Linked DNA regions of Homo sapiens: all the other regions are linked to region 3. Evidence: fine-mapped expression QTL. A gene starts in region 3. Each other region holds a variant in brackets. All regions are shown on one strand. Distances are between the middles of the regions.

Region 1 (2,754 bases), 42 kb before region 3:
TTTTCTATGTGCCTATTGTCACAACAGAGTCCGGCAGCGTCTTCTCTTGAGGGAGCAATTTGGAGAAGAGCTGGAACCCAGACTCGCGCCCTGGATGCCATCCTTTATCATCCACAGCAATCCCATCTGGTTGGGAGCACTGCTCTGGGTCTCACACTGCCCCTCCTCTATCCTAGGGAGCCTGAGGCCCAGGGGTGGAAAGATCCAGTTGCGGGTGGGGGGTAGTGAACCGCGCAGGATAATGAAAGCAACTTGCTTTGGAAATGACCTACCGCTACCCGTTGTCTGAGACTGAGATTATCTCAGACTGTCTTCTGGCTTCTGCCAAAACACTCCCTTAACAGAAAGCACCGAGGGGATGGGGGTAGGGGGGTTGGGGAGAGTGAGGCTTGAGTGTGAAGGAAGTCTCATATATGCAGAGCTGAAATCTCCCTCTTTGTATGTCCACACTTTTGTCTTGTTCTCTAGACTGATTCTTGCTATTCCAAATCCTCTTCCACGTTGACAGCCCTTCAGATATTTCAACACTCCTCTCAGCATCCTCCACTTCCCCCATCTCTCCAAGCTGAACTTGGTTCACAGGGTGGGATTGTGTATGTGCATGCAGGAGGTGGGGGTGGACAGTGCCCTGGGCTGGAATCCCCCTTAGTTCTAAGTGCCTCCTTGCCCGCAGCTTCGAGAGCTGTGCCCAGGAGTGAACAACCAGCCCTACCTCTGTGAGAGTGGTCACTGCTGCGGGGAGACTGGCTGCTGCACCTACTACTATGAGCTCTGGTGTAAGTCTCCAAGAGGGCTATTTCCAGGTCCCTGTGTCCACCCTCCCTTGGACCTCAGAATTTCGGCCTTCAGGGCCCCTTCTCTGCATGAAAGATGCCTGAGTTGCTCCCTCCTTGCCTCTTGCAGGGTTCTGGCTGCTCTGGACTGTCCTCATCCTCTTTAGCTGCTGTTGCGCCTTCCGCCACCGACGAGCTAAACTCAGGCTGCAACAACAGCAGCGGCAGCGTGAAATCAACTTGTTGGCCTATCATGGGGCATGCCATGGGGCTGGTCCTTTCCCTACCGGTTCACTGCTTGACCTTCGTGAGTGACTTGATGCCCTGGGTCAGCTACCAGTGGCCCTCCCCAAACCAGAACCCCAAATCGTCTCACATTCCCTTTTCC[A/ACACATTT]CACATTTCAAAGTATTTTTCCCTAATATAAAAACTAGCACCCTATACCTGGTTGTCTTCAACCAATCATGCCAATTTTCTCCCCTGCAGGCTTCCTCAGCACCTTCAAGCCCCCAGCCTACGAGGATGTGGTTCACCGCCCAGGCACACCACCCCCCCCTTATACTGTGGCCCCAGGCCGCCCCTTGACTGCTTCCAGTGAACAAACCTGCTGTTCCTCCTCATCCAGCTGCCCTGCCCACTTTGAAGGAACAAATGTGGAAGGTGTTTCCTCCCACCAGAGTGCCCCCCCTCATCAGGAGGGTGAGCCCGGGGCAGGGGTGACCCCTGCCTCCACACCCCCCTCCTGCCGCTATCGCCGTTTAACTGGCGACTCCGGTATTGAGCTCTGCCCTTGTCCTGCCTCCGGTGAGGGTGAGCCAGTCAAGGAGGTGAGGGTTAGTGCCACCCTGCCAGATCTGGAGGACTACTCCCCGTGTGCACTACCCCCAGAGTCTGTACCGCAGATCTTTCCCATGGGGCTGTCTTCCAGTGAAGGGGACATCCCATAAGTAGTTTTGAGAGGGTGGATGGGTTACTTGCCCACCAGAAACAGCCCTAGTCCCAACTCCTTGCGTTCCTTTGGCCCCTCCCTGCCTACCTAGAATCTGCCTGAAAGGGCTGGAGAGGGGCAGTATTGGGGGACTGTGCTAGCTTTACCCCCGCAGGACATACACAGGAGCCTTTGATCTCATTAAAGAGATGTGAACCAGCTACTTGTGGATTTGGGTGGACTAAAGCTCAACTCACTGCATTGCACTTGACCTGACTGGGTTTGAAGGGGACAGGTTATGGCCACTTGACCCCACCTTCCCTGAGGACAGCAGACAGTGCTGAGGCCTGGACTGACCTAAGGCCTCTTGGTGAGGCAAATCTGGCAAAAGCAATAGAGTTCAAAATGTTTTTTCCAATTTATTTAGAAAAATAGACTCTGGATTCACATTCACCCCAGGGCTATGTGGGATGACAGCAAGGAGACACCTGAGATGAAATGAGGAAGGTTTGAATTACTGGTATCCAAGGGGCTGGGGGCAAAAGCCAGAAGCCTTTGTCCCTTCAGAGCCAGAGTGGCATGAGTGTCTTGGCTCCCCTCCTCTCCCTCCCTTCAGTAGTCTTCAGCCATGGCCAGTAAGACAAGGCTGGTCCAGCCGTGGAAAGGGCGGCAGCCCATGCCTCGCCCATCGCGGTCACTGTACTGCTCCCAAAGAAAGCCTGTAGCCTGGTACTGGCGCCATACATTGCCTACCACGTTGGCACGGAGCTCACCGTGGAGTTTGGCAGCCCGAGCCTGGTGAGGACCCTCCAGATGCCCATAGTGGTGGAGTGCTCCCAAAGCCAGGTAGTTGACATTGAGCCACACAGCACCCCGCCAGTAGGGGGGATCATGCTCTGAATTGCGCTGGCCATAAAAGGAGCTGGAGGCTGCAAGGGAGCGTAAACCAAAGGGGCTCCAGAGATGGCGGCTGTCGGCTAGAATGTCCAGCAGGGGCCCAAGGCGGGATGAGGTGGGGTCCAGCAGTCGCAGCAGCAAGGGAAAAAGACTGACATAGCCAA
Region 2 (2,754 bases), 44 kb after region 3:
CTTACTGTCTTCCAAATATAAACCATTCATTATCATCTCTGTTGGGGCCAACAGTGACTTTACTGTTGCTAAATCCAGCATTTGTTTCTCAGTCCTCATGTTTTTAGGTCTGGGCAGCACTGACTTAGCTGGTCACTCTCTCCTCTTCGAAGCACTTTACTTGGCTCCCAGGCCACCACACTCCCCTGGTTTTCTTCCTACCTCACCTCACTGTTTGCATTCATCTTATCTTCTGACTTTTAAATATTTAGTCTCCCCAAGGTTCAGTCTCTGGGCCTCTCTCTGTCTTTTAAATTTACATTCACTTCCTTGGTATGTTGTCCAGTTTCAGGACTTTATATGTTTTACTCAACTGAACTCCAGAGTCCTATATTAAATTACCTAACTTAGCCTCGCCACTTCAATGTCTTAAAGAATCTTAAATTTAACAGGTCTAAAACCAAGTTCCTACCCTCCACCCCCAAGCCCATCTCCCAACAAAACATGCTCCATTCACTGTTTTCCTTGTCAGGTGAGGCCAATTTCTTACTTAGCTGAGGCCAAAAACCTGGAGAGAGCCTTAACTCCTCTCTCTCACATCACACTGAATCCATCAGCAAGTCCTATAGCTCTGCCTTCAACTGTCTGTAAATCTTGATCATTTTTCACCACTTTCACTGGTCACCATCACCTTTCACTTTCTTTACGTGGCTTTCAGAAGACAATAACCCCATAACCAGCCACCTGACTTCTTGCTTCTACTGCATCCCTTACAATCTATTCCTAATAAAGCAGTGAAAGTAGTACTGAAAAAAAAATGGAAGCCCGATGTCACACCTCTGCTCCAAGCCCTCCAGTGGTTCCTTATCTCCCACAGAACAAAAGCCATCCTCTCCCAGATGGCCCGCAGGATCTGGCTTCCCATTCTTTTCCGAAGACCACCTACACTGCATCTCCTACCATTTTCTTCTTTTTCACTCAGCTCCAGCCACAGTGGCCTCCAGGAGAAGGAGAGGCCTTATCCCATCACCCACTACATACACACACAGGCACACACACACCCCAGAATATTTTCATTTTTGATCCCTCTTCCTAGAAATGTTTATCTAGAGGTCTGCATAGCTTGTGCCCTCACCTCCTTTAAATCTTTTCTCAAATGATGCCTTCTCCAAGAGGCCTTCCTTCACCACTTATTTATTTACTTACTTACTTAATTTATTTTTATTTTATTTTTATTTGAGACGGAGTTTCGCTCTTGTTGCCCAGGCTGGAGTGCAATGGCGCGATCTCAGCTCACCGCAACCTCCGCCTCCCGGGTTCAAGCCATTCTCCCGCCTCAGCCTCCCGAGTAGCTGGGATTACAGTCATGCGCCACCACACCCGGCTAGTTTTGTATTTTTAGTAGAGATGGGGTTTCTCCATGTTGGTCAGGCTGGTCTC[G/A]AACTCCTGACCTCAGGTGATCCGCGCCTCGACCTCCCAAAGTGCTGGGATTACAGGTGTGAGCCACCGTGCCCGGCCTTAGTTAATTTATTTTTTGAGACAGGGTCTTGCTCTGCCACCCAGGCAGTGTAGTGGCATGATCACAGCTCACTGCAGCCTTGACTTCCTGGGCTCAAGCAATCTTCCCACCTCAGCCTCCCAAGTAGCTGGGACTACAGGCACGCACCACCATGTTCAGCTAATTTTATTTTTAAAAAATTATCTGTAGAGACAGGGTCTCATTATGTTGCCCAGGCTGGTCTCGAATTCTTGGGCTCAAATAATGCTTCCACCGTGGCCTCCCAAAGTCCTGGGATTATAGGCATGAGCCACGGGTAGTGTCTACAACAGTACCTGGCACATAGTAAGATCTCAGTAAATAAATATTGGGTGAGTGGATCTCTACACCTTTGTTCACGCTATCTTCTTCACTGGAAATGTCTAAATTCTACGCATCTTTCAGAACATGGGGTTTAAATTAGGGAAGGTAAGCAGCACAGAGAAGGAAATGCAGCCCCAAGATGGATGAAAGTAAAGAGGCACAGCACGTTTGTTTTAAAGTGGTTTGAGTGTCCAGGCCAGATAAAGTACCGAAAGTCCTCAGTACTGAAAGACATTTCAGATGAGCCTCAGAGCCAAGGCAAAGAAAGTGTGAGCAGGTATAGAAAAGACTGGAGACTGGATAATATCCTGACTTTCAAAAGAAAAAAAAAAAAGGAGAAAAAGGATTCCTCAATTCCTCAATCTACACATAAGTAATATTCTAGAATAAATTATTAAATAGAAGTTTGTAAGCATTTAGGAAAAAATAAGGTGATTCTTAGAGACCTAAAAGGATTTCAGTAAAAATAGACTCAAACTACTATGATTTTCTTTTTTGACAGGATTACTAAATTGGAAGGCTGGAGAATGGCTGTGAACATAGCATATCTGGATTTTATCAAAAACTAACAGAATCTCCCATGATTTCATTACAGATAAGAAATATATAGATAGATAAGGTGAAATGTTGGTTACATCATTGAAGTGTTCTGTTTCTTCCCAGTTGGTGGAAGGAACATATTTTACAGCTGATGATTAGAAGCTTGATGAAAATCTACAGGAACATTTTGCAAGAAGAGTTAGACTTTGGTTTTAAACATTTCCACAACAACTTTTAGCCATTTGGATGAAGCCAGAAGGCAAAGCTGCCATGTCTGTTCAGCAGAGGAGGCTGAGGGGAAATGACAGATGGAAAGTCACATCAGGACTCAAGATAATCTCATGGGATCATCATGGCTTTTTTATGGCTTCTAA
Region 3 (2,754 bases):
GATCTTCGGGCTACAGGCCTCAGCCCTGGAAACCATCCTAGTGGTTTCACTTAATGTGCAATAAAGCAGCTCTCTGGAGGCAGCAGGAACTGCCCCACTGCATCCCAGGCATATCACCAAGCAGATGCTGCAACCTTCACTCATGCATCCTCTATGTGGCTTTTGTGTCTGTCTCTACCTCTGCTCTCAATTACTTACGTGTGTCTGTGAGGAGTGTGGAGCTCTGCTGATGGGCCTGTGCCTCACAGCCCCTTCCATCTCTCCCGCCTAGTTCTCCCCTCTGCAGCTGGGCTCAGGTACTGGGATTGGACAGCTCCTAAACATGAGTTTGGGGGAGGAGATGGAAGTGGAGAGTAGCAAAGGGAGGAGGCCCAGGACAGCAGAGGCCCCTCTAAGGTCGTCAAAGCGGCCAGGGACTAGTCCAGGGGATCGTGGGGCCACAGAAGGGGACTTTTCTCAGTACTGGAACTCGAGCTGGGGCGAAATCGGATCCACAGAGAGGGGTAGGAGGGTGAGTGATTAATGAGGAAGATTAAGAGATTAAAACTTGTTCTGGGTTGGGGAGGGGACACTCACTCGGCTGTCCTATAGGTTACCCCCCACCCCAGCTTGGAAGCACAGAAGCTCCTGGGTGCTCGCCTCTTCCCACCCGCGGGTAGAACCCTCCCTGTTCACGATCCTTCTCAAGAGATGCACGGAGGCCAGCCTTCACCGCTGGCCCCGCGGGGCCAACGGTTTTCCTTTTCAGGCAGTCTCTTGTGTTTCCCACCTTCTCAGATTCCTTTGATTGTCCATTCAGACATTTCGGGGCCCTGCGCTCCCTCCCCTTGTAGAGATCCCCACATTCCAAATTCGCTGTCTTGGGAAGGCACCCCATTCCCGCTTAAGGATGCTTCCTCACACCTCCCCTTTCAGATTTCCCATTCTCACCCCTCAGCCCTACCCCCACCTTATCTTGCACCCACACACCCCATCGGCGGGTTCCTCCACCCCGGGCCGCCCCCGCTCGACCCCGTTCCCCACTGGTGGCACGGAGGCCTGCTCAATAAACGACCTTTAGTCTCGGATTGCCGGCCCGGACATTCCACTGAATTCTGTGAATGTGTAGCAGGGTTGGAGGACCCTCGGAATAACCCCCTTGGGGAGGTGGACAAGGACAATCTCAGCGAAGAGCTTGCTCCCCTCCTCCCCACCCTTAGGAAACGTCCGTGAACCGGAGTGAGAGGGCAGTGGGAGTTCAGGGAGCAAAGTCCAGGCGGAGGAGCGTGAGGCGGGGCTTCCGTCCGTCCCGCACACTTCTGGGATTGTTTTCTCTTTCAGAAAGCGCTACTGCGGAGTGAACCGGTCCTTATATCTTAGTTTCGTGACTTTGGGGGCGGCAGGCCTGTGAGTTGTTTTCCGCCCTGGACGCTGTTTTGCAAAGATCTCTGCGCGCCCACCGCCACCCTCCCGGGCGTGCGGGCCGGGAAGCAGCCAGCGGTGGGAAACTCCGACGCCCTCCTCGACACTTTTCTCCCCCCAACTCCCCAAGACTCACTTCTAGGGAAGTCCTTTTTCCCATCAAGCCCTGGGAAAGACTGGCCAGGCTGAGAGAGGGACCCGTCCTCCTCTGTGCCAAAGGCGGGAGCAAATCCTGGTGCTGTCGCCTTTGGATGTGAGTCCTGGAAATGGCGGGGGTGAGGAAGGTGGGCAGGGGCAAGGTTTGGCCCTCAGGCGAGAACCGACGCCTTGTCCCGGAAGCGCAGCACGGCCGAGTGCGTCCGGGGGTGCAGACGGCGCCCTGGGGTGGTCCTGCCGCCACCTCTCCTTTGACTCAGGAGCGCCGCGCCGCGTCCGGGCGCGTTCTCAGTCGCGCGAAGCCAGAGAGGACCCTGGGCGTGATTCTCCCTCCCTGGCACAGACGGAGACCCGAGTGACCCCGGGGTCCGGGTGGGCGTGGGGAATGGACCCATAGACCCGGGACGAGCGGCGCGGAGCCCGCAGCTGGCCAGCTTCAGCCACCTTGGGAGACGCAGTGCAGCTGCCGCTGCTGACAGACAAGACCAAGGCTCGGCTGGGCCCCACCCCAGATCCGGCCTGAGCGCCTTCCGCGCTGCTCGGCCTCAAGGCGTGAGTCACCAAGGGCAAGTCCCGTGACTTGGTCCTCAGGGTCTCCGGCCTCGGCACATTAATCTTCAGACCCGGCTTTTTCGACGCCGAGCTGCCGCCCAGCCCCAATGGCAGGGCCTTCCAGGGAGTCCCAGTCAGACTGCTCCCCAGCTCCCGCAGCTGCTCGGTCCCTGCAAAGCCCCCGGGAGCGTTTCTACTCTCCCCTGAGCCCACGCCATCCCGTCACTCCTAGGAAACTTTTCGCGCAGAAACTCCTGGAGAACAGCCCCGGCCGCCAGGTACTCGCCCGCCCGGACCGCAAAGCCCACAGAGCTTCAATTCGCAGGAAGGGGAGTGGGGAGCCCTGAGCTGGGGTGTTCCTGGAAGAGGTCGGGGAGCGGGGGGAGAGGCATTCCAGGCTGGAGGCCTGGAAACGTTTGGAAGCTTTGCTAACCTTGGAGACCATGTCAGGAAAGAAGCGTACCCAGGCCGTCTGCTGTGTGCCCACCCCGATCCCCATCAGTGCCCCACGCACTCGAGCTCTTCTTCGGCGTCTGCAGCCTCTTCATCCGCGCGGAGAGGCGGAGGTCTCCCGGAAACAGTGTCCGACTGTGGCACCCCAGAGCGTCCAATGCGAGCTCAGGCCTTTCCCGCAAGTCTGGAGTT

Alleles and levels. Positions count from the first base shown, and alleles are read on the strand shown. Sizes are in standard deviations (SD) of each study's normalised expression. Not every link is listed here.
With allele G in place of A in region 2, the expression in subcutaneous fat of the gene that starts at base 1,295 in region 3 is higher (large effect, 0.84 SD a copy in GTEx).

Evidence for each region. PIP is the estimated chance that this variant, and not a neighbour inherited with it, causes the effect. A credible set is the group of variants that fine-mapping cannot tell apart.
Region 1: its variant is the best candidate, but not a certain one, in a credible set for the expression of LBX2-AS1 in pituitary (GTEx, PIP 0.86).
Region 2: its variant is the best candidate, but not a certain one, in a credible set for the expression of LBX2-AS1 in subcutaneous fat (GTEx, PIP 0.69).

The regions. Positions count from the first base shown.
Region 1 is chr2:74,458,970-74,461,723 of GRCh38, forward strand. WBP1 (WW domain binding protein 1) reads left to right here. Exons shown (of 4, transcript NM_012477.4): 2 at 674-776; 3 at 904-1,080; 4 at 1,252-1,912. The coding sequence ends at 1,712. MOGS (mannosyl-oligosaccharide glucosidase) reads right to left here. Exons shown (of 4, transcript NM_006302.3): 4 at 2,088-2,754. The coding sequence ends at 2,306. INO80B-WBP1 (INO80B-WBP1 readthrough (NMD candidate)) reads left to right here. Exons shown (of 8, transcript NR_037849.1): 6 at 674-776; 7 at 904-1,080; 8 at 1,252-1,922. Among named protein-coding and RNA genes, the nearest start is that of WBP1, 1.9 kb to the left of the region's middle. The variant A/ACACATTT (reference allele first, on the strand shown) is at 1,162.
Region 2 is chr2:74,545,517-74,548,270 of GRCh38, forward strand. The region is part of intron 4 of LOXL3 (lysyl oxidase like 3); the gene reads right to left. Among named protein-coding and RNA genes, the nearest start is that of LOXL3, 7.0 kb to the right of the region's middle. RefSeq lists an enhancer at 530-699. The variant G/A (reference allele first, on the strand shown) is at 1,420.
Region 3 is chr2:74,501,299-74,504,052 of GRCh38, forward strand. It overlaps LBX2-AS1 (LBX2 antisense RNA 1), which reads left to right and starts at 1,295. Exons shown (of 2, transcript NR_152616.1): 1 at 1,295-1,654; 2 at 2,342-2,754. It also overlaps a transcript of LBX2 not described here. RefSeq lists enhancers at 1,203-1,827, 1,828-2,453, 1,924-2,218, 2,125-2,194.